Linked DNA regions of Homo sapiens: all the other regions are linked to region 3. The links come from fine-mapping of genetic effects on gene expression. A gene starts in region 3. Each other region holds a variant in brackets. All regions are shown on one strand. Distances are from middle to middle. Region 1 has its middle 21 kb from the start of STK24-AS1. Region 2 overlaps FARP1 (FERM, ARH/RhoGEF and pleckstrin domain protein 1). Region 3 holds the start of STK24 (serine/threonine kinase 24). Region 4 overlaps STK24 (serine/threonine kinase 24). Region 5 overlaps STK24 (serine/threonine kinase 24). Region 6 has its middle 56 kb from the start of STK24-AS1.

Evidence for each region. PIP is the estimated chance that this variant, and not a neighbour inherited with it, causes the effect.
Region 1: its variant is the best candidate, but not a certain one, in a credible set for the expression of STK24 in whole blood (INTERVAL, PIP 0.63).
Region 2: its variant is the best candidate, but not a certain one, in a credible set for the expression of STK24 in cerebellum (GTEx, PIP 0.61).
Region 4: its variant is the best candidate, but not a certain one, in a credible set for the expression of STK24 in skeletal muscle (FUSION, PIP 0.89).
Region 5: its variant is the best candidate, but not a certain one, in a credible set for the expression of STK24 in whole blood (INTERVAL, PIP 0.70).
Region 6: its variant is the best candidate, but not a certain one, in a credible set for the expression of STK24 in whole blood (TOPMed, PIP 0.78).

What each region holds. Positions count from the first base shown.
Region 1 is chr13:98,596,405-98,600,490 of GRCh38, reverse strand. No RefSeq gene overlaps it. Among named protein-coding and RNA genes, the nearest start is that of STK24-AS1, 21 kb to the right of the region's middle. RefSeq lists an enhancer at 3,642-3,691. The variant T/A (reference allele first, on the strand shown) is at 1,616.
Region 2 is chr13:98,451,911-98,455,996 of GRCh38, reverse strand. FARP1 (FERM, ARH/RhoGEF and pleckstrin domain protein 1) reads right to left here. Exons shown (of 27, transcript NM_005766.4): 27 at 821-4,086. STK24 (serine/threonine kinase 24) reads left to right here. Exons shown (of 11, transcript NM_001032296.4): 11 at 2,788-4,086. The coding sequence ends at 2,824. Among named protein-coding and RNA genes, the nearest start is that of FARP1-AS1, 18 kb to the right of the region's middle. The variant C/G (reference allele first, on the strand shown) is at 2,359.
Region 3 is chr13:98,574,974-98,579,059 of GRCh38, reverse strand. STK24 (serine/threonine kinase 24) reads left to right here and starts at 1,953. Exons shown (of 11, transcript NM_001032296.4): 1 at 1,953-2,315. The coding sequence starts at 2,274. STK24-AS1 (STK24 antisense RNA 1) reads right to left here and starts at 1,805. Exons shown (of 1, transcript NR_046542.1): 1 at 219-1,805. RefSeq lists an enhancer at 1,240-1,429 and silencers at 1,520-1,669, 1,690-1,999, 2,050-2,919.
Region 4 is chr13:98,546,840-98,550,925 of GRCh38, reverse strand. The region is part of intron 1 of STK24 (serine/threonine kinase 24); the gene reads left to right. Among named protein-coding and RNA genes, the nearest start is that of STK24, 28 kb to the left of the region's middle. The variant G/TG (reference allele first, on the strand shown) is at 2,065.
Region 5 is chr13:98,460,833-98,464,918 of GRCh38, reverse strand. It overlaps STK24 (serine/threonine kinase 24), which reads left to right. Exons shown (of 11, transcript NM_001032296.4): 7 at 1,083-1,228; 8 at 3,022-3,145. Among named protein-coding and RNA genes, the nearest start is that of FARP1-AS1, 27 kb to the right of the region's middle. RefSeq lists an enhancer at 701-1,202. The variant C/G (reference allele first, on the strand shown) is at 1,914.
Region 6 is chr13:98,630,993-98,635,078 of GRCh38, reverse strand. No RefSeq gene overlaps it. Among named protein-coding and RNA genes, the nearest start is that of STK24-AS1, 56 kb to the right of the region's middle. The variant A/C (reference allele first, on the strand shown) is at 2,166.

The DNA.
Region 1 (4,086 bases), 21 kb before region 3:
TGAGTGTTTTTTATTCTTCTCCTCCTCTCCCCTCAAGTTCTGTCCCTTCAAACCCATCACACATTTCAGATTATTTGATTCCTACTTTGCAGAAGCCACTGTCATCTCTCCTGAATTTGTCCCTAGAAAATCTTGCCTTTGGGTGGGTGTGGTGGCTCACACTTATAACTCCAGCACTATGAGAGGCCGAAGTGGGAAGATCACTTGAGGCCAGGAGTTCAAGACCAGCCTGGGTAACATAGTGAGACCCCATCTCTAAAAAAAATAAAAATCAGCAGGGTGTGGTGGTACATGCCTATAGTTCCAGCTACCTGGGAGGCTGAGGTGGGAGGATCACTTGAGGCCAGGAGTTTGAGACTGCAGTGAGCTATGATTACACCACTGCATCCAGCCTGAGTGACAGGCTGAGATGCTGTTTCTGAGAAGAAAAACAATTGAAAATCTTGCCTTTGCTTGTGGCCCTCTCTGGCAAGAAGACACTGCCCTATGAGGGCACTAATGATGGCCACCCAGTGATGTGGAGGGGTTAATGCCATCCTGGAGATGCTCTTTTGCAGCCTGCTGGCAGTAACTTGGGCTCTGCTGCCTGAAAGCAGCAGTGCCTGAGGATTTCAGTCAACATTCCAGACATACTTTGTGAAGATCTACCAGCAGTCCCCACAACCCCACTGCAAATTACAAGGTATAGAAAGCTTTTGAAGAGAATCCACATTGAATTTTATATTTGGGATGGAATCCTGTAGCTTTATAAAATATTTCTATTCCCAAATATTTCTTTTCCTTTGCATTTGAACTAATGAAATAGACGTTTTTTTAAATTGAGTTTTGGACTTTGAACAGAGTGCCTTTGTTTTCTTGGAACATAGGTTACCTATGACAACAAAACCTTTTTGCACACTGGCTTTTGACCTGGGAATTGAAACAGAAGGCTGAGCCTGTTTTTAACATATTTGGGCACATCAGATGATGTTCTTTTAAAGAAGTGGCCATCATGTCCAGGGCACTGTCTTCCTGATACAAAAATAAAATTAGAAAGAGTTTTATTTTCCATGCATTAAAACATTCAGATTTTAATCCCATCTATCCAAGGGGTTTCTCTAGAGCTTTCAGAGCATAATGTATTGGGTTTTCCAAAGAAGACAACTTCTTTAATAATTAAGGGCTTTTTGTATGCATTTCTTATATGAAATAATGGCACGAACTGAGAAATAGTCCTTTTGCAAAGCAAATGTAACATTTGTACAAAAAAGAACAAAATTAAAAGATTTCTTGATTTAAGGTCCTTTTTAAAAATTAAAGCTGTCAATTTTTTTGTCTCAAAAGAGATTTAGTAAAGATGAAAGACAAAAGACAACAGTATCTTCAATCACTAGCTTATTAAAGGAAGACTAGGTAGAATAGACTTTATTCTAAGAAAAATAGGAGGCCATTGAAGGGCTTTTAGTATGTGAGAAACATGATTTGGTTTGCTGGTGGAGAATCTACTGGAAGGGGCAAGAGTGAAGCAGGGAGACCAGGGGAGAGATAAGAGTGGTTTAGAGAGATGCTCTCAAACATGCAAATGACTTGCAGTTGCATGAAATGTAAATTCTGATTAATAGAATCAGTGTTTGGG[T/A]TGCACCTGAGACACTGCATTTTGTTTGTTTGCTTGTTTGTTTGATTGTTTTGAGATGGAGTCTTACTCTGTTGCCCAGGCTGGAGTGCAGTGGCATGATCTCGGCTCATTACAACCTCCACTTCTCAGGTTCAGTCGACTCTCCTGCCTCAGCCTTCCAAGTAGCTGGGATTACAGGCATGTGTCATCATGCCCGGCTAATTTTTGTATTTTTAGTAGAGACAGGGTTTCACCATGTTGGCCACGCTAGTCTTAAACTCCTGACCTCAAGCGATCCTCCCACCTTGGCCTCCCAAAGTGCTGGGATTACAGGCGTGAGCCACCATGCCCAGCCTGAGCCACCGCATTTCTAACAAGCCCCCAGGTAAATAATGATGTTCCTAATGCTGAACCACACCGAGTAGCAAGGGTTTCGGGTAGGATGATAACAGCACAGAAGGAGGAAATGGATGGATTTGAGAACTATTTAGAAAGCTCTGAAATTTAGGATCCTATATTTAGGATAATAGGACTCCCTGACTGACCAGGAGGAGGGGACCCAAGGATCACCAAGGATGGGTCCCATGTTTTTGAGCAGGAGGGATTGTGTGGTCTGATTAGTCGACGTTGGGAACAAGAGAAGGGAGTTTCTAGGGGGAGCTCCTGAGCTTAGGAAACATCCGAATGAAGTGGGCAGGGAGATGGATTTCTAAGTCTTGAGCTCAGGAGAGAAGGCTAGAGATGTGCACTGGAAATCATTAGGTAAAGCAAATGGTATAGTAGACCCAAGGGAGTAAAGAGGAGCGAGAGGATGAGAGAGCCTGGAACTGGCCCTTTAGGGCTTCTAGTATTTAAAGGATGGGTAAGACTGGACGTGATGGCTCACGCCTGTAATCCCAGCACTTTGGGAAGCTGAAGCAGGAAGATAACTTGAGGTCAAGAGTTTGAGACCAGCCTGGCCAACGTGGTGAAACCCCCGTCTCTACTAAAAATATGAAAAATTAGCTGGGTGTGGTGGTGCACGCCTGTAGACCCAGCTACTTGGGAGGCTGAGGCAGGAGAATTGCTTGAAGCCGGGAGGCAGAGGTTGCTGTGAGCCGAGCTAGTGCTACCACACTCTAGCCTGGGTGACAGGTGAGACTCTGTCTCAAAAAATAAATTAAAATAACATAAAATAAAATAAAATAGCCGGGCGTGGTGGCTTACGCCTGTAATCCCAGCACTTTGCAAGGCCGAGGCGGGCAGATCACAAGGTCAGGACATCGAGACCATCCTGGATAACACATTGAAACCCCGTCTGTACTAAAAATACAAAAATTAGCCAGGCATGGTGGCGGGTGCCTGTAGTCCCAGCTACTTGGGAGGCTGAGGCAGGAGAATGGCGTGAACCCAGGAGGTGGAGCTTGCAGTGAGCCGAGATTGCGCCACTGCACTCCAGCCTGGGCGACAGAGCGAGACTCCATCTCAAAAAATAAAAAAAATAAAAAAATACAATACAATACAATAAAGGATGGGTAATACTTATTAAGCCCACTGGGGATACTAAGAAGGAGAAACCTCAAAGGTCAGAGGCAACCAGAAGAACATTATAATACAAATGTCAATGGAAGAGATTGCTTCCAGAAGCCAGCATAGCCAACTATGTCAGGTGCCATGGTGAAAAGACAGAGGGCTGCAAATTGCCCATGAACTATATCTGCCTAGGTTATGGTGAATTGAATATGGCTACATGGTTTCTGAGGACTGGTGGGGGTGTGCACCAGGTTGGAGGGGTCTGAGAAGGGAGGATAAGGTAAAGGAATGGAACACACTTCCAAGAAGTTTGTCCGTGGAGGGAAAGAGGTACTGCAATGGTAGCTGGAGAGGTATGTGAGGTGGAAGGAAGGTTGTTTTTCTTTTTTCTCTTTTTTGAGATGGAGTCTCGCTCTGTCGCCCAGGCTGGAGTGCAGTGGCGCGATCTCAGCTCACTGCAACCTCCACCTCCTGGGTTCAAGCAATTCTCTTCCTCAGCCTCCCGAGTAGCTGGGATTACAGGCGCCCGCCACCAGGCCCAGCTAATTTTTGTATTTTTAGTAGAGATGGGATTTCGCCATCTTGGCCGGGCTGGTCTTGAACTCCTGACCTTGTGATCCACCCACCTCATCCTCCCAAAGTGTTGGGATTACAGGCTGAGCCACCACACCTGGCCTGTTTTTGTTTCTTTTAAAATGGAAGAGGCATGAGCATGTTTAAATGCTGATTGGAAAGACTGAGTCAAAATGAGAAACTTAAGATACAGAAGTGATAGGGAACCAGAGATAGCATGAGGTCACTGAGAAGGGGGCGGTGGAGGAAGTGGACTCAGATGTGAGAAAGGGCACATCCCCTTTATAACAACAAGAGAGGATTTGGACCAATGTCAATAGGTTTACAGACGTGGTGGTGAGATTCAGAACCATCTCTCTTCTGATGGATTCTGTTCTTGGGAAAGCAGGAGTGAAGGTCATGGCTAA
Region 2 (4,086 bases), 120 kb after region 3:
AATTAAAAAGTCACCCATCTTTTGCCTGAACACAAACTTTTTGATTTCTCAAACTTAGCATCACATACCTCATTCTAGAGGCATTTATTTCCCATTAGAAAGAGCTTTATAATAAAACAAATAGAACAAAACCAGAAACGGGTAGGATTGTTACTGTCTTGTTGGGCATTTTGCTCTCTGCTTTTGTAGTATTACTTTTAAAACCAATACTTTCCACACTGTCCAGAATTGCCTGAAATTGTTATGAACTGTTTGTTTATATACGTGACTTGATTTCCCCAGGGCAGCTCCAGGGCACAGAGTGTGTGGCTTGTATGTGTTGAACTGATCCACGTTTCCCATTCCCAGGCCCCTATCTCTCTGTTCCTCTTCTTTTAGTTGTTAAGGCAAGTTGATCTGTACCAGTGCTGGCCAGTAGAAGTACAGCGTGGGCCACACACAGAATTTTATGTTTTCTGCTGGATGTGGTGGCTCATGCCTGTAATCCCAATGCTTTGGGAGGCCCAGGCAGGAGGATCGCTTGAGGCCAAGAGTTTGAGACCAGCCTGGGCAAAATAGCAAGACCCTGTCTCTACCAAAAAAAAAAAATTTAGCTAGGCATGGTGGCTTGTACCTGTGGCCCTAGCTACTTGGGAGGCTGAGGCTGCAGAATTGTTCGAGCTGAGGAGTTCGCGGCTATGGCTGTGATCACGTTTGCACTCCAGGCTGGGCAACAGAGTGAGAACCTGTCTCTAAAAACCAAACAAAAAGAGAATTTTACATTTTCTAGTAGCCATATTTTTAAAAAGCAAAAAGAAGTGAAATTAGTTTCAACAATACATTTTTTAACCTGCCAGATCCAAAGTATTATTTCAACATTAATAACAACAATCATCAATAAGGTATTTTACATTTTTGGAGGGACCGTCTTTGGAGTTGGTGTGTGTTTTACACTTAGCACATCTCCATTCAGACGCAGCACATTTTACGTGCTCACTGGGCATCGTGGCTGGGGTTGACCCTATTTACCCTCGGGCGGGTCTGTAGCTACCTGATGTCTGTGTTGTGTTTAAAACTTTACTTTGCAGTGATGCATGGGGGAAGCCAAGTTGGTGCTCTCTTTCCTTTGTCTGTGATGAGGAGTGCCCTCTTTCCTCCTCTGTCCTCAGATGAGCTGCCTCTTGAGGTGCTTATCATCTCTCTGCAGGCTTGGCTGTGGTACCCACTTCTTCCTTCCCTGCTCCTGAAGCTCCCACTGAGCGTTCACCCCGATGGCTGCCAAAACCACGGTGGCCATGGCTTAGACTTCCTGCCAGTTTTGCTCCAAACATGTTGTTTCAGTGGATGGCTGTAGGAAAAATGAGAGCCGCCTCTCCTCTGAAGCATTTTCAGAGCCTTTCTGTCTCAGCTGGAATTAATGTTTGGATTCTTTTGTGTGACATCAACTCATCCCGTGATTTAGTCATTTGTATTTCTTGATAGTTGAGTCTTAGGCTCCGTGGCTAATGTGTGCTTTTGGGAGGACCTTATGTAACCATTTGTTCTCTGGGAGAGATGCCAAGTATTTCAAATGCCTGAAAAGAGGAGCTCTAGATTGGAACGTTTGAGATAAGCCTGGTCAAAGACATCCTCAGCCATCTCTCCTGGACCTGTGATTTGGAGTCTGTTGTAAAATGGTTGAGGGAATTGTGGTCATGAGGGGACCCCGTTCTCACCCTTTGTTGTCTTCTGAAGACAATCTTGTAGAATTTTTGGAAGACACAGAAATTACCCATGATCCCACCACTGTAGCCCAAATCTCATCAGCATCTTTGGGTGCATTGCCTTCTGTTGTCATACCAGGTCATAAACTTACTGAATTCTCTTATCTACCTTATAGTGCAAAGAAGATTTTTTAGAATTTCTATAGTACTTAATTTAGGATACAGAAGTTGTTCATGTAAATATACTTATATAGTGCACATATACAGGCTGAATATCCCAAATCCCCAATCTGAAACTTTTGAGCGCCAGCATGGGGCTCAAAGGAACTGCTCTCTGGGGCATGTCAGATTTCGGATTTGGGGCTGCACACTGGTAAGTATAATGCGGATATTCCCAGATCCAAAGCCAGAAGCATTTCAGATAAGGGATGCCCAATCTGTAATTTTGTATGTACTTTTAAACTTGTACATATTTTTAATATTGCTTTAATATATATATGTAAATACAGATAATTACCATTTTTAGTCTGTTATTTCAGTTTGTATAATTTACTTAACTGATTCTGTACTGTTGGGCATCAGAGTTGTTTCCAAATTAGTGTAATTACGAAAATCCCGAGAGACATCTTTGTGCAGACACGTTGTTCCTGCTTTGGACCATATTTCGGAAGCAGTT[C/G]TAGGAAATAGATTCTTGGACTGCATCACTATTTTTATGGCCAAAATGGGTTTCCTGCCCTCACATCGGGAATGCATATGCATCCCTGGAATCTTACTGTGTCATCATGTATGGATCAATGTTCACTTTTTGACAATTGATCGTAAGTAAAAGGGATATGATTTCCCGTTTTATTCACATCTCTCCAGGGAGGCTGAACCCATTCTTGGTTTTTGGTGACATGCTCTGGAGTTTTTGTGTAAGAATCATGATCTTCTCAGTCTTTATATGCATTCTTTTAAAATTAGACTTACACATTGATATTTGCTCCACTTATTTTTGTATGACTTGGAATTTCTTATGAAAACTAAGATTTTGGTTACTATATGAATTTTTGCACAGGGATGAGAAATGACATGTGTTGACTTCTCTCTCTCTCTTTTTCCCTAGATACTCTCTAAGTGGTGGAGGAACTTCATCCCACTGAAATTCCTTTGGCATTTGGGGTTTTGTTTTTCCTTTTTTCCTTCTTCATCCTCCTCCTTTTTTAAAAGTCAACGAGAGCCTTCGCTGACTCCACCGAAGAGGTGCGCCACTGGGAGCCACCCCAGCGCCAGGCGCCCGTCCAGGGACACACACAGTCTTCACTGTGCTGCAGCCAGATGAAGTCTCTCAGATGGGTGGGGAGGGTCAGCTCCTTCCAGCGATCATTTTATTTTATTTTATTACTTTTGTTTTTAATTTTAACCATAGTGCACATATTCCAGGAAAGTGTCTTTAAAAACAAAAACAAACCCTGAAATGTATATTTGGGATTATGATAAGGCAACTAAAGACATGAAACCTCAGGTATCCTGCTTTAAGTTGATAACTCCCTCTGGGAGCTGGAGAATCGCTCTGGTGGATGGGTGTACAGATTTGTATATAATGTCATTTTTACGGAAACCCTTTCGGCGTGCATAAGGAATCACTGTGTACAAACTGGCCAAGTGCTTCTGTAGATAACGTCAGTGGAGTAAATATTCGACAGGCCATAACTTGAGTCTATTGCCTTGCCTTTATTACATGTACATTTTGAATTCTGTGACCAGTGATTTGGGTTTTATTTTGTATTTGCAGGGTTTGTCATTAATAATTAATGCCCCTCTCTTACAGAACACTCCTATTTGTACCTCAACAAATGCAAATTTTCCCCGTTTGCCCTACGCCCCTTTTGGTACACCTAGAGGTTGATTTCCTTTTTCATCGATGGTACTATTTCTTAGTGTTTTAAATTGGAACATATCTTGCCTCATGAAGCTTTAAATTATAATTTTCAGTTTCTCCCCATGAAGCGCTCTCGTCTGACATTTGTTTGGAATCGTGCCACTGCTGGTCTGCGCCAGATGTACCGTCCTTTCCAATACGATTTTCTGTTGCACCTTGTAGTGGATTCTGCATATCATCTTTCCCACCTAAAAATGTCTGAATGCTTACACAAATAAATTTTATAACACGCTTATTTTGCATACTCCTTGAAATGTGACTCTTCAGAGGACAGGGCACCTGCTGTGTATGTGTGGCCGTGCGTGTGTACTCGTGGCTGTGTGTGTGTGATGAGACACTTTGGAAGACTCCAGGGAGAAGTCCCCAGGCCTGGAGCTGCCGAGTGCCCAGGTCAGCGCCCTGGACTGCTTGCGCACTTGCTCACCGAGATGATGCAGTTGGAGGTTGCTGATCTGTGCGATTGCTGTAGCGGTTGCCGGGGAC
Region 3 (4,086 bases):
GTTTGTGGTCCAGGTGCAATACGTCATACCATATAGCCTAGGTGTGTAGTAGGCTATGCCATCTAGGTTTCTGGAAGTACACTCTATGATGCTCACGTGACAAAATCAACTAAGAACACATTTCTCAGAATGTATACCCATTGTTAAGCAATACATGACTGTGTGTCTGTAGGCCATATATATTAATATATATATAGTCATTTGAGATCAGTCTATATACAGTGTTTTGTACCCTGTATTTTCTTTAATAATATATAATGAATACATTTTCCCCATTACTAGGTACTGAAAGACATAATTTTAAATGACTACATAGTACTCGTATGAAAATGCTATTATTTACTTAACCTCTGTGAGACTTTTTGGCTGTTCCGTTTCCCCAGGATTCTAAACATCACTGTGTCTTCTTACATGCATTCTTCCACACTTCTTGGTTGTTGCCTTAGGATATGTTACTTTAGGTAGAATTCCTGGGCTGCGCTGAAGAATAGAAACATTTTAAAGATTCACATTCTTGCTTGTTTTGCTGTTCGCCTCTTTAGGTACCATATTTTTTAGGTGTACAAAATTTATACACCTGATTTTAAGTTCCTGGGTATCAGGGTTCATACTTCTCTTAATTTTGTATTTCCTTGCAGTCCTACTTACGGGTGGCAGGGCTCCTCAAGGGATGGGTGTACCAATGACAACCATGAAAGTATTCTAAGGTATTCCCTAGGACTCCGAGAAAAAACATGCATCTTTCCAAAGGGAAAGAAGGGATTAGATGTTAGCATCCTACTCCATGTCAGATCCAGAGCACCCGGGGGAACTGAAGTTCGTGGATGGAATACAATGACACCTCAGAAAAGAAATACTCCTTTGGTGGAGGCCTTTAAACTTTTGGGGGCTCATTTTGTCTGCCTAACTCGCCCAGCCAGGGCGCAAAATGGCCACTTAGGAGCATGAGTGAGGTGCCAGCGTCCCTACAATCTAAGGAGCAGGGAGTCATCACTGGGGTGGCTGCCGCTCTACCTGTTTGCGACTGTAATAAAACACCTTCTGGAGGCCGAGGGACCCGCTTCATCCTGACTTTTCCCCTCAGTAGCTAGAGAGAAGGCGGCTGAAAAGAGGAGACAGAACTGGTGCTGAGTGGGCCTGGAGCTTCCGAGGCAAGGGAAAGAGGGAGAGGGCTGCAGTTCAAAGTCCAGACGCGCTTTCCTTCCATTCTCTTCCCTTCCTCCCTGCCCTCTGCGCCCCATTTTCCCCTTATCGTGGGTGGGGGCTTCTGATTTGCTGCGGATCCCAGAGATGGTGGGGTTCAGCCTCCGCACTGCTTAGCTAAGTTCCCAGCCCAGCAGTCCCAGCCGGGCTGTTTTCGGTAACCAAAGCACTAGGAATTAACCTCTCTCTCGGCCTCTTCCCTTTCGGTTTCCTTCTTGGGTTGGCTGGAAACTTCACCCAGACACCGAAGCAGCTCTGCCCGGCCTTTTGGCACAGGCCACCGGCCGAGGCCCCACGGGGCGCTCTCCTTCCCCAGGTGCCCCCGACTCCGATCCTGCCCTCAGGGGCTCGCCCGGGACGCGTTTTCCCAGAGGCCGCCGGGGCGGGGTGGGCTGGCTGGCGGGAAGAGGGGGCCGCGGCCCAGGCTCGCCCCGGCGCCGGCCCGGTGGGCACGCGGCCAGCCTCCGGCCCCGACTCGGTCCCTCCCGGCGCCCGCCCCAGCCGAGGCCCCCTCCCGGCCCCGCCGCCCGCCCGCGGGGGCGTGGGAGCGCCGCAGGAGCAGCTGGGACCCGGGCCGGGCCGACAGGCGGCGGCTGCGGCCTAGGGCTCCCGCGCGGCCACCGGCCTCTCCCCTCCCCCTCCCGGAAGCGCGGGGCGGGGTCCCCGGCCGGGCCGTGGGGGCGGGCGCGGGGGCCGGGCCGGGGCGGGACGCGCTCGGCGCTCGCGGGCTCGGCGGGCTGTGCGCGCCCACTCCGGCTCCAGCGGCCAGCGCGCGCGGGCCCAGGCCGCCCGGCTCCAGCCCAGCAGTAGCGGCAGCAGCGGCGGCGGCGGCAGTGCGCGCGAGGCCCTGCGCCCCCAGCAGCTCCTCCCTGGCGCCGTGCATGGAGACGCGGCCCGCCACCCGCCGCTGAGCCCCCGCCGCCCGGCCGGGACCCGCCAGGGCTGGGGTGGCCTCGGGCTCCGGCCGGCCCCGCCGCCCGAGGGCTGCGCGCGGCCCGCGGGCCTCGCCGCCCCGCGCGGATCGTCGCGGCCCGGCCGTCCCGTCCCAGGAAGTGGCCGTCCTGAGCGCCATGGCTCACTCCCCGGTGCAGTCGGGCCTGCCCGGCATGCAGGTAGGCGGGCGCGGGCCGCGGGGCCGGGATGCGCGACCGGGGCGGAAGCAGCAACTTGGCGGTATCCACACGGCGTCCCCCTACGCTCAGCCGGCCGGGGTCGCGCCGGAGCCTGGCTCCCCGCGCGCCCGGCTCGGCCGGGGGTCCGAGTCCGAGTCCCTGGGCGTCCCTGCCGGCTCCGGCGGCCGAGGTCTCCGGCGTGTGCGTGCAGGAGCCGTAGGAACCGCGGCCTGGGTCCGGATGTGGGGGTGCGGGCGCCTAGTCCTCCGCGCTCCCCTCGCCCCAACACTCTTCCGGAGCTGCAGGCCCTGGGTGGCCCTGTCCCCGGGAGAAGTGAGGTGGAGTGATGCCCTTGGAGGCCCCCGCCGGGTCCCGGGGCCCTGCGTGGTGGCCGGGTTGGCGGAGGGCCCCAGGACGCGTCCCCCAGGCTCGTCCCCCACCCCCGGGCAGGCGGGCGGGAGACCTGGGCAGGGCGGGGACGGGGAGCGCGCCTGGACTCGTCCGGGCCCGAGCGGAGTAGGCAGGGTGGAGTGGAGGAAGGTAACCGCGAGTTCCACTTGCAGTGGCTTTGCCCGGAGCCCCCGTGCACCTGCGGACCGGGGGAAAGTGCGAGTTGCAAACCTTCTGGAAGGAGGAATCCCTCGGACAGCCGCGCACCAGGGTCCCGGGCCCGGCCCCGGGACCCTGGACTTTCACTTTGAGACTTGGTTGCATTTACAGGAATTCTTCGCCCAGTAAACCTCTCTTTCGGTACTTGGTGACACCTTGGCCTACCAGTGACTTTTTGGGGAGTGGGAGAGGAGTTGAATTTCAAATTTACATGTATAAGTTAAAGGTTTTTTGTTGTTGTTGTTTTCGTTGTCGTTGCTTTTAGCCCTTTGAAAAACAAAGCTACCGTCCTTGGCTAACTCTTGTAAACTTTGTAGGCGCAGAAATGGTGGCAAAATGCTTAGGATGGAAATCTTAGGATGCAGTTAGGATATGTCATGAAAGTTTGCTCTGCCAGTTTAGCTGAGTGAACGTTAAGTGTTTGAAGAAAACCAAAAGCATCCAAGTAGATTACTGGTTGATTTACAGGTACCAACAGGCTCCTTCCCTGTGTCTTGAGGGCTGAGAAGCACAGAGCCCAGACCTGGGACTGCCTCTGGGGTCTGCTCGCCTCTTCCAGTGAGATCATCCCTCTCCCTTCTTTTTTTGAAACCGTAAAAAGAAAACTGGATTTCACTGTTCAGGTTTGAATTCTGGAAAAATAGGAACTCAAAGTTACCACTTTAATGGCAGCTAGAATTTTAGTCCAAGTGTGTGTGTGTGTATATGTGTGTGTGTGTGTGTGTGTGTATATATAAGCAGTATATATATGTGTGTATATATGTTTAAGCAGTAAATAAATATACATTTAAGCAGCAACAGTTAAGTTATTATCTTAAGAGTGACTGGGAAGATGCTTGAAGAATATTCTTTTGTCGACTCTCATTTAAGGAGCGTTGAATTTAGCATGCATTCAAAACCTAAACTTCTGCTGACTGCTGGGTAACAATCAGATGTGGTTTCTTGGTATTTTCTAAAGCCGCTTTGGTATGAATTTAGAGGTGTGTAGGTCAGAGTGAACTGGGTGAAAAAAGTAATTTCTTACTAGTCGAGCAAGAAAGGACTCTTGTAATGATTTAAAAAAAAAGTTTTATCAATATTTCCTTTAGGTTGATATTTATACCGTGTTCATCAGGTTGGAATCTAGCACAAATGCCTCACTTACTAGGTTAATTGGCCTTTG
Region 4 (4,086 bases), 28 kb after region 3:
TTCAGAAGTTGATTAAGGAACTTAATTCAGAAATTGATTCAGAAGGTTTTCTTTTTGCTTTTATTGTTAAAGCATTGAATTGAAAACACTGGAAGCAGTAAGCTGTATAAATGATTTCATTTTATTTTGCATACTTAGAATTGGGCATCTGGAACTAAACAAGAGAGTTTATGCAAAATTACATGCAAATGAGTATTTTTTTACCTTTGAGCCCAGAGCTTTAGGCTTCTACCCTGCTGGGAAAAGGATGCTGTGTCCCTGAGCTTTCATGGGACCACCAGTATAAGTATTAGAAAGGACAACTGGACTTGAGTGATAAATACTGATGGTTTGTCTTTAGAGAGAGAAGACAAAACTACAAGAAAGAGGCCATTCCTTTTTGTTGTTGTTGTTTTTGGAGAGAGGGTCTCGCTTCCTCACCCAGGCTGGAGTGCAGTGGTGTGATCATGGCTCACTGTAGCCTCTACCTCCCAGGCGCAGGCGATCCTCCTGCCTCACCTTCGAAGTAGCAGGGACTACAGGTGTGCACCACCATGCCCAACTATTTTTTGTAGGGACAGGTTCCCCCTATGTTGCTCAGGCTGGTCTCAAACTCCTGGGCTCACGCGATCTTCCCCCCTTGACCTCCCAAAGTGCTGGGATTATGGGCATGAGCCACTGTGCTTGGCCTGTTCCTATGTAAAATGAAAAAGAAGAAACAAGAAAGCTTTTACTGCTTCTAGAGAATTCCCTCAGTTGTAAATGACTAACAGTGTTAATGACGTTTCATGAACTAGGATGAAAATCTTTGTGGAGTATTGAATTGAGTCATCAAAGGGAAGCCTGCAGTGTTACAACCCTAGCCACTATAAATAAAGTGTATTAATGAGCTAGTAGTATGCTGCAGACGACCCACCTGTGGAAGTGAGATTCTTGTGGAAAAGTCAAGATCATTGAAGAGATGTGAGACCACCTAACTGTGAGGTTACACCAGGCATAGTCAGGAGGCAAGGAAATAGGTAGCTACTGTGGTCTGAATGCTTATGGCTCTCCACAGTCATGTTGTGAATCTTAGTGCAATTGTGTTTCGAGGTGGGGCCTTTAGGAGGTGATTAGGTGATTAGCTGATGAGGGTTCTGCCTTCATGAATGGAATTAGTGCCTGTCTCAGGCTGTTCTTCTGTTGCTATAAAGCAATTTATAAAGGAAAGAGGTTTAGTTGGCTTATGGTTCTGCAGGCTGTACAGGAAGCATGGTACAGGCTTCTCTTTGGCTGCTGGGGAGGCCTCAGGGAGCTTTGACTCATGGCCGAAGGTGAAGTGGGAACAGGCAGTCACATGGCGAGAGTGGGAGCAGTGGAGAGAGATGGAAGGTGCCACACACTTTTAAACAACCAGATCTTGCTGGAACTCACTATTATGAGGACAGCACCAAGCCGCGAGGGATCCACCCCCATGATCCAAACACCTCCCAGCAGGCCCCACCTCCAACACTGGGGATTGCATTTCATCATGCAGTTTGAAGGGGACCTCCAACCATATCAGTGCCCTCACAAAAGAGGTCCGAGGGAGCTTCTTTGTCCCTTCTGCTATGTGAGGACAGAGCTAGGAGGTGCCATCCATGAGGAATGGCACTCAGTACACACCGAATCTGCCAGTGCCTTGACCTTGGACTTCCCAACCTCCAGAACTGTAAGCAATGAATCGATGTTGTTTATAAAAGTTGCACAGTCTGAGCTGACTAAGACAGAAGTATTTAGGCTAATGGAGGAAGTTGCACAAGCATTGTTGGTGGTTAGCTGCATATGTTTCAGATGGTCAGAAGAAAAAAATTCTCTTCACTGAAATTGTGTTTCACAGCATGTGTTATCTACATGGTCTCAGGATAGTGTCTCCATTGGGGCTTGTATTAGCAACAGCCTAATTGCAGGAGGCCTCATGACCATTGTCCTACCCCGGGGCACTGATCGGGGTCTTCTCTATTTGTTATTACTAAAGGGCATACCTTGGGAGAGCCACATGTGTATTGAAGGTCATATGGTAGATCTAGTCATTTACTCTATTTTTTTTTTTTTTTTTTTTTTTTT[G/TG]AGACAGAGTCTCACTCTGTCGCCTGGGCTGGAGTGCAGTGGTATGATCTTGGGTCACTGCAACCTCCACCTCTCAAGTTCAAGTGATTCTCCTGCCTCAGCCTCCCGAGTAGCTGGGATTACAGGTGCCTGCCACCATGCCTGGCTAATTTTTGTAATTTTAGTAGAGACAAAGTTTCGCCATGTTGGCCAGGGTGGTCTCGAACTCCTGACCTCAGGTAATCCACCCACCTCAGCCTCCCACAGTGCTGGGATTACAGGTGTGAGCCACCGTGCCCAGCCATTTGTTCTATTTTCATGTAGAAAGATGTGACACGAGGGAGAATAATAGTGAAGTGTACGCATCATCAGCTGTGTGATTTGAGGGTAAACCCTTGAGATGAGACAGTTTCTTGTCACTTGATGATTTATTTTCCTATCTCAGCCTTTAGTTGGAATTTACTGGGTGTGCCTGTCACTTGTGATTCAGCTGCTTCTTTATGTAGCATTGGCAGTTGTGGCTTAGAAAGGACAACACAGCTGAGGCTGCAGGTCACACCATAATGGGAACAGGGGAGCACTTACTATGTCCAGTTTTAAAAAAAACTTTGTTTTTGCCCCAGGAAAATAAAAAATTGTCTTATTTTAGCCCCAGGAGAATAAGAAAACATCTTATTTTTAGCCCCAGGAACTATAATATGTATGCATTTTTCTGTATTTTTTACAGGTGAGTAAACTAAGGCCTAGAGAGGCAAATAACTTGTAAGAGGTGGAGGTGGATTTGAAGCCACATGCACCTGGCCGTAGACTCCACGTTCTTCTCTTCATGTGGTGTCAGCTCCTCCAGTAGATTTGCTGCTGGAGCGGGAAGTTAGAGTCTCTCTGAGTTCTTAAGGGAGAGAGGGGAGGGCTTGGTGGCCCAGCTGCATAAATAGCCTCATCTACCATGAGGGTTTAGCAGTAGTTTGCTCTGTGTGGATAAGAACTACAGTGTGGGATCAGTTTACTGGAGATGAGAAGGTGAATGAGGCTGTGATATTGAAGTATAGGAAAGGTGCTTGCACATCATGTATTTTCTCAGTTTGCTCCTTTGGTCACAAAGAGTTGGTAATAAGGCGAAGTTTACTAAATTGATGGCTGAATACAACTGGGAGCCTTGCAGAGAAAACCATTTCACAGCTATTGATTTTACTCTTAATCTTGCCTCCCCAGCCCATGGCGTGTCATTACAGGAATCCTGGACAAGAGGTGTCTCAGTACAAATACTGGAAAACCAGCTGACTGCAAACAACCTATTGACTTTTTATCATAGTTGGTCATTAATTTTGTTTTAAAGAAATAGGGTCTCATTCTGTCGCTTAGGCTGGAGTGCAGCGATGTGGTAATGGCTAACTATAGCCTCGAACTGGTGGGCTCAAGCAGTCCTCACGCCACAGCCTCCCGAGTAGCTGGGACTATAGGCGTGTGCCACCGTGCCCGGCTCATTGTTTAAATTTTTGGTGGAGATGGGGTCTCATTATGTTTCCCAGACTGGTCTCTAACTCCTGGCCTCAAACGATTCTCCCACCTTGGCCTCCCAAAGTGCTTAGGTTGACAGGTGTGAGCCACTGGGCCTGGCCACAATTTTAATATAAATTTTAACATAAAAGTTACCCCTTAAAACAATTAGATAGCTGGGCGCGGTGGCTCACGCCTGTAATCCCAGCACTTTGGGAGGCCGAGGCGGGTGGATCACGAGGTCAGGAGATCGAGACCATCCTGGCTAACATGGTGAAACCCTGTCTCTACTAAAAATACAAAAAAATTAGCTGAGTGTGGTGGCACATGCCTGTAATCCCAGCTACTCGGGAGGCTGAGGCAGGAGAATTGCTTGAACCTGGGAAGCGGAGGTTGCGGTGAGCCGAGATGGTGCCATTGCACTCCATCCTGGGCAACAAGAGTGAAACTCCATCTCAAAAACAAACAAACAAACAAAAAAAAACAACAATTAGATATGGAAGGAAGGGGGAACACAGATGTTCAGGGCCTCAGAGATTCAGGTGT
Region 5 (4,086 bases), 110 kb after region 3:
TCAGCAGACAGGAAAAAGGGGATCTCCTGGCTCCTTTCCAGTTTCTCTGAGATAATTCCAAATTGACATTTCTATTATATGGTTGGATGTGGCCAAACGTTAATACAGAAAGTTAACAAAGCAGCCCAGCATGGTGGCTCACATCTGTAATCCCAGCACTTTGGGAGGCCGAGGCAGGTGCATCACCTGAGGTCAGGAGTTCAAGACCAGCCTGGCTAACATGGTGAAATCCCGTTTCTACTAAAAATACAAAAAATTAGCCTGGTGTGGTGGTGCAGGCCTGTAATCCCAGCTACCCAGGAGGCTGAGGCAGGAGAATCGTTTGAACTGGGGAGGCGAGGTTGTAGTGAGCCGAAATCGTGCCACTGCACTCCAGCCTGGGCAACAAGAGCAAAACTGTCTCAAAAAAAAAAAAAAAAAAAAGTTAAACAACACAGAACATATATTTTGTCAGCATTTGTCATAAAGTATTTTATAAACTAGGAGATAAGCTTTTTTTTGAGACAGAGTCTTGCTCTGTCGCCCAGGCTGGAGTGCAGTGGCGCGATCTCGGCTCCCTGCAAGCTCCGCCTCCTGGGTTCACGCCATTCTCCTGCCTCAGCCTCCTGAGTAGCTGGGACTACAGGCGCCCACCACCACGCCCGGCTAAATTTTTTTGTATTTTTAGTAAAGACGGGGTTTCACCATGTTAGCCAGGGTGGTCTCGATCTCCTGACCTCGTGATCTGCCCGCCTCGGCCTCCGAAAGTGCTGGGATTACAGGCGTGAGCCACTGCGCCCGACCAGATCATTTAAGCTCTCTTAAATGATCCCTGTGAAGCTCTGTGCAGAGTTTTCTGTGAAAATGTATTTATTAGGGACATCCTTGGAAAGACAGTGCCCTGCCCACCATAGCACCCAGAGCCCAGGCGTAGGTCCTGAGCGACTCGTCTTTGGGTGAGTTGCAGTGAGAAGCGCTGTGGAGTAGAGAGTCCAGCCATCAGGTGTCAGTGTGGCGGTTGACATTTTGAGGCAGAAGTCTGTCCTTTGGGGTAGGACCAAGAACTTCATCTCATACTTTAATTGTTGGGTGTGTTTTTCCAGAGACCCACTGCTAAGGAGTTATTGAAGCACAAGTTTATACTACGCAATGCAAAGAAAACTTCCTACTTGACCGAGCTCATCGACAGGTACAAGAGATGGAAGGCCGAGCAGAGCCATGACGACTCGAGCTCCGAGGATTCCGACGCGTAAGTCGGCCCCTGAGTGACCCAAGCATGTGTGTGGGAGGGATCCGCTGGTCTTTGTCACTGTTTGGTGTGGGTTTCGTTTTCTGTTGAGTTTTTTTTTTTTTTTAGACAATCCAGGTTGGTGGCAATTGTTGTGTTAGACACAGCCTGGGCCTGTTTGGGAGTTGTTTAGCCTCTTGACGTTGCTGGTGGAGTTTCTGCGAGTGAACTCTTGTGGTAGAGCTGTGCATGGGGAACTGGACCTGGCTGTTTCATTCTGTTTTGTTTCGTTCTGTTCTGTTCTGTTTTCCATTAAACTTCCTGTTTGTAAAACCCTGATCAGGTGAAACTGCTTTACATGGATGTCTGAAAGGCCAGAAATGCATGTGTTTGTGATTCTGTATTGTGTCTGGTAGAAGCTTCTGTACCAGGAGTGGCTTACTGAGAATTGCTGTCAAGTTTGGCATCTAGGAATTCCCTTGGCTTAAGAGGCGGAGTGGGGCTGGAGCCATTTGTGTGGGGAGGGCTGGGGGAGGTGGTCGGGCAGACTTGTGTCTGGAAGTCCGAGCGTGGGACTCGTCTGTTCTCGTGCATGCCTTGGCAGAAGTTAAAGTTGGCCCACAGTGCAGGTCCATGTGCCAGGCCAGTTGAATGAGGATTTCCGGGGATGAGACCCTAAGTGGTTTTTCAGGGTCTCTAGGTGATT[C/G]CAGTTTAAAGCCAAGGTTGAGACCACTGCCCCCGGAAGTTCTTGAGGTACTGCCATTGGGAGATTGCTGGGGTAGCAACAGGGATGACAAGAGAAAGAGACTGGAGAGAGGTTTGGAGAGCCAGGACGCGGCGGTGGATTTGGGTGAAGGAGGGAAGCCAATGTTCCAGGCTGGGGCAGCGTGGCACCAGGTGTTGTGATGTGTGGTGCGGGAAGCCGAGTGTGGGGTGAACCGTGTGTGAGTCTGAGTTGTCCAGGAGAGACGTCCAGTGTGAAGTGGCACCGAGGTGTGGAGTTCAGGTGAGAAAGCTGGGCAGGTGAAGCGGGCTTAGGGGCCACTGCTCTGTGGAGGTCACTTGAGCCGAGAGAAAAAAGGGTGTCAGTTGGGGCATGTGGGGGAGTGAGGCTGGCCCCTAGGTGTGAGGGTGAGGCTCCGCCTGTGAGTGAGAGGGGAGAGGTATGGCCGAGGGGCGGGAGGAGGTGCAGGCTTAATGGGGCCACAGGCATCAGGGGATGATCAGCAGGGCCTGGGGCTCATTGCCTCTGAGGCCCATACAGGACAGGGAGTGATCAGCACACCATCATCTCATGATGGGGGAGGGAGCGCTCGGAGGGACACGGGTGGGCTTTGGAGCGAGTGGAGGGTACCAAATAGAGGCAGTGAGTGTGAATCCCAGAACCAGGGCTGAGAGATGGCCAAGGTGAGGCCAAAGTGTTGGAATGACAGGCATGAGCCACCACACCCAACACAGGGACATCTGCTTCCCTGGTGAGAGGAGGAGCCCAGCAGAGAGAAGCTGATGTCCCAGAGATGGGCTCCCAGGGAGGTGGGGGAGGTGTTCTCCGGGAGGAGGAGGAGGGTGGGCATGCACACACTGGCACGCCAGGGAGTTGTGGAACCACCTCCCGATGGTCTCTTCTCTGTGAGGGAGGAGGCGGGGGGGTCTTTGGGAAATCCCAGAGGGACTGGACAAGGGTGTGATGGGTGGGGACTTGGGGCTGGTGGGTGTGGGTTTAGAGGTCCCCAGGCGGCCTCCCCCTGAACGTCCCAGCGCCCCCAGAGCAGGTGTGCGAGCACTGATGGGATTTCCTGCATTTCTGTGTTAAGGGAAACAGATGGCCAAGCCTCGGGGGGCAGTGATTCTGGGGACTGGATCTTCACAATCCGAGAAAAAGATCCCAAGAATCTCGAGAATGGAGCTCTTCAGCCATCGGACTTGGACAGAAATAAGGTACGTCTGCTCACTCCAGAATGGCCACGCTGACCTCAGTCTGCAGTGTTTTGGAGGCACTTGTGTGTGAAGCTTGCTGTGGGTGCGGCTGGGGTCCTTTGTGGCAGCTGTCCTGGAATTTTGTTGCTAGGGGATGGGCAGATGAAGAGCTTTAGTTCTGTCTGATGATCCAGGTGTTCACACCAGGGAGTCTGGCCTCTGGTCTGTTTTGTGCCACTCTATTCTGCTCTCTGCAGCCCTGCTGTTGAGTTAGGATGTCCCGATGTGGCAATGTCATGGGGTTTGGGGGTGACCCGTGAAATGACTTCATAGCTCTGAGGGACTGTTGTGCATGTTGCGGTTACTTACATACATATCATAATTTTGTGACTGAGTTTTAAGGACCTTATAAGTAAATGCATTGCTTTTGATATTTATGTAAAACAATTTTGATTAATTGGTTTTATGCCTGTTAAATTTATGAAAGGCCATATATTTAGGGTCTTGTAAAGCATAGTGGTGTAGTTTCTTTCAGGCAGGGTGGGCCAGTGGCTGTCCCCTGTTGATCCTACAAGTCCCGCTTTGATAAGTGAACAGGTGTTAAATGTCCAAATAGAGGTTGCAAAAGTAGAAACTCGGTCTCTGTCCTAGACAGCCATTGGAATGGCCAATCTTGACCTGATTTCTATTTCCAGGGTTTCATTAGTAAAGTACTTTTCTCTCTCTCTCTCTCTCTCTCTTTTTTTTTTTTGAGACGGGGTCTCTGTTGCCCAGGCTGGAGTGCAGTGGTGCCATCAGAGCTCACTGTAGCCTCAAACTCCTGGGCTCAAGTGATCCTCCCACCTCAGCCTCCTGAGTAACTGGGATTGCAGGCATGTGACATCACGCCCAGTTTATTTAAAACTTTTTTTTTTTTTAATAGAAACATGGTCTCACTATGTTGCCCAAGCTGGTCTCGAACT
Region 6 (4,086 bases), 56 kb before region 3:
GAGATGGGGTTTCACTACGTTGGCCAGGCTGGTCTCGAACTCCTGACCTCAAGGGATCCGCCTGCCTCGGCCTCCCAAAGTGCCGGGATTACAGGCATGAGCCACTGTGCCCAGCCAACACAGATGCTTATATATCTCTATCCATAATTGCCAAGAACTGGAAACTATCGAACTGTCCTTCAACAGGTAAATGGACAAACAGCTGTGGTACATCCATATAATGGTGTACTACCCAGTAATCAAAAGGAACACGTAATCAATGCGGCAACACATCAGGCCAATCTCAAGACATTATGCTTGCTAAGTGGGCCAAGCCAGTCTCAAAGGCTCCATATTTATAATTCCATTTATAAGATATTCTGGAGAAAACTAGAGTGAATGAGAACATATCGGTGGTCTCTGGAAGGGTGGAGGGAAAGATAATACCGAGAATTTTTTGGGGAAGATGGAACAGTTCTGTCTGCTGATTGCAGTGGTGGTTACACAGTCTATACGTGTGTTCAAATTCCTAGAATTCCACACCAAACAATTCAATTTTACTGTATGTTAGTTTAAAAAAACGAAGTCACTTTTTGCATAGCACAAAGCATTATAAGCAAAGTCAGAAAACAAATGACAAAGTTAAAAAAAGTATTTATGTGATTTATATCACAAGCAAACTACTACTCTCCGAAATATACAAAAATCTTTAAGTGTCAACAAGGCCAGAACACCATCCCGGAAAGAGCAGAACATGAACAGCTATCAAAAAAAAATACAAACAGCTTTAAAATATGAAAAGACGGTTCCCATTACACATAAACAAAATGCATGTTAAAACTACAGTAAAATACCAATGTTTATAAGATTGGTAAAAATTCCCAACTTTGACAATGCAAACTGTTGGCCAGGCACTCTCATTCAGGGAATGGGTATTAGACAATATATAATATTAGACAAATAATGACAGATATTTGGCACTATCAAGTATTTCCTTTGACAAGGCATACTTATTCTATGTGTGCAAAATGAAGTATCTTCAAGGTTATTCCTTGCAGCATTTTCTATAATAGCCAAAGAATTGAAACTAGTCAAATTCCATCACTAGGGAACTAACTAAATAAATCATGGAATACATCCATTCATTGAACTGTTCTGCAGCTATAATAAAGAATGAGATAACTTTCTATGCCCTGATAAAAGACAGGTTCTTATATATATTATTGTTAAATGAAAAAAGGAAAGTGTAGAAGAGTGTATAGTATGCAAAATTCTGTATAAAAGGTAAGGGGTGGCCAGGCGTGGTAGCTCACACCTGTAATCCCAGCACTTTGGGAGGCCAAGGTGGGCACGTGGTTCACCTGAGGTCAGGAGTTTGAGACCAGCCTGGCCAACATGGTGAAATCTCATCTCTACTAAAATACAAAATTAGCCAGGTGTGGTGGTGTGCACCTGTAATCCCAGCTACTTGGGAGACTGAGGCAGGAGAATGGCCTGAACCCGGGAGGCAGGGGTTGCAGTGACCCTAGATGGTGTCACTGCACTCCAGCCTGGGCAACAGAGCGAGACTCTGTCTTAATTAATAAATAAATAAGTAAATAAATAAATAAATAAAAAAGGTAAGGGGTAACAGAATAGATATTGGTACTTGTACCACATGGAGAAGCTCTGAACAAATAAGAAAATAATGGAAGTGATGATCGATGGGAAACAAAAAGATGGGAGATAGTAGAAATAGTTTCCCTCTATATCTTTCTGTGTGTTTAATTTTTGAGCCATTGATACAAATTACTTGTTCTAAAAATTAAATTAATAATTATATTTTCAAATAAGAAGATCCATTTTCAGTGATAGCTCATTCATCAGCTCTGTGGAATGCAATAGAACAGGCAGAAGGGCTCCGTGGGAGAGCTGAGACAGGAAGCCAGAAGAAACACTTCCCTTGCACAAAAGAAGTGAAAATGCAGAAGGAAGTGGCATTGGAGAAATCTAGTGCAAAAGGAGCAGAAAGGGTATGAGAAACGGCATGAGAGAGTGGAAGACATTCGTTGTTTTGGATGTGGACTTGAATTTAGGTCTGCTTCCTGCTGACTACGGAATTTGGGCAAGTCTTTTAAGTTCTCTGAGCCTGTTTTCTCAACTGCAAAATGGCAATAAGAACAAAACCTACCTCACAAGGTGATTGT[A/C]AGTGTTAAAGAAAACATGGAAACACCTTGCAGCAGAGAACGGGCCTGTGCGCTGACAATGTTGTATTAAGAAACAGAAAAAGGAGGCCGGGCGCAGTGGCTCACGCCTATAATCCCAGCACTTTGGGAGGCCAAGACAGGCGGATCACGAGGTCAGGAGATCAAGATCATCCTGGCTAACATGGTGAAACCCCGTCTCTACTAAAAATACAAAAAAAAAAAAAAAATTAGCCGGGCGTGGTGGCGGGCGCCTGTAGTCCCAGCTACTCGGGAGGCTGAGGCAGGAGAATGGCATGAACCTGGGAGGTACAGCTTGCAGGGAGCCGAGATCACACCACTGCACTCCAGCCTGGGTGACAGAGTGAGACTCCGTCTCAAAAGAAATAGACAAAGGAGGCTGAACGTGGTGGCTCATGCTGTAATCCCAACACTTTGGGTGGCTGAGGCAGGAGCATCACTTGAGGCCAGGAGTTCAAGACCAGCCTGGGCAACATAGCGAAACCTGGTCTCTACAAAACATATTTTAAAAAATTAGCCAGGCATGGTGGCACAAGCCTGTAGTCTTAGCTACTTGGGAGGCTGAGGCAGGAGGATTGAGGCTGCAGTGAGCTTTGATCCCAACACTGCACTGTATTCCAGCCTGGGCAACAAAATGAGATGCTCTCTCTAAGTTTTAAAAAAAAATTGAAAAAGAAGAAATAGACAAATGAAAAAAGCAAAGCCTCTCAGAGCTTCCTACTGCCTCCTTTCCTGCTGGGCTTCTGTACCACTGAGCCCCAAAGCTTGGACTTGCCTGGGAGGATGGAGAGATGGGAAGCTACTGAGAGACAAAGGCAAAATCCCACTGGGCACACAGGAGGAGGAGGACTGGAAATCCAGTCTTAAAGGATTCTCTTCCGAACAAACTCCAGTTTGCTAATTTGGTCATGAACAGGCCACCTTACTGTGGGGCATTTTAGGAAGTTTGAACGTTATTCTGAGGGCTTTGAGGGTTTTGAGTGGAGGTAGGGGTGGGATGCTGATCAAATTTGCATCCTAGAAAGATCACTGTGAATACAGTGTAGAAAGTGGGTTGGAAGAAGACAAGATGGGGGGCAGGGACCTCATTAGGAGGTGGCTGCAGGAATCTGGGGGGGAGTCGGAGGTGGCCCTAACTCAGGTGAAGGGATGGAGGAGAGACTGGGAGGAGCCTCAGGGGGCTTGGTGAATGCCTGATGGAACGCTGAGGCATGGGAGGAAGAAGAGGCAAGGACGACTCCCAAATTTCAGGTGGAGCAGTCCAGTGGGTGTCATGAGCACCATTCACTGAGACAACAACAACAAAATGGCAAGAAGCGGCTGGGTGCGGTGGCTCACGCCTGTAATCCCAGCACTTTGGGAGGCCGAGGAGGGTGGATCACGAGGTCAGGAGATCAAGACCATCCTAGCAATGGCAAAACCCTGTCTCTACTAAAAATACAAAAAATTAGCCAGGCATGGTGGCAGGTGCCTGCCGTCCCAGCTACTAGGGAGGCTGAGGCAGGAGAATCGCTTGAACCCGGGAGGCAGAGGTTGCAGTGAGCTGAGATCGTGCCACTGCACTCCAGCCTGGGCGACAGAGCGAGACTCCATCTCAAAAAAAAAAAAAAAAAAAAAGAAGCCACAATCGTGGGAAAGATGAAGAGTTCAGCCATGGCCACAGAGCGTCTGAGTGGCTGTCAGACTCGGGGGAAAGTGGGTCATGGGTAGTAGGATGTTATGGTCCGGACTCACACAGAGGTCAGTGAGAGACATCTACCTACAAATAGCAGGCATGTGAGCCTAGCAGCGCATAGAGAACCAGAAAGAGAAGCCTGAGACACAGCCCTCAAGAATGTCACTTAGGGCCAGGCATGGTGGCCCACGTCTGTAATCCCAGCACTTTGGGAGGTCAAGGTGGGTG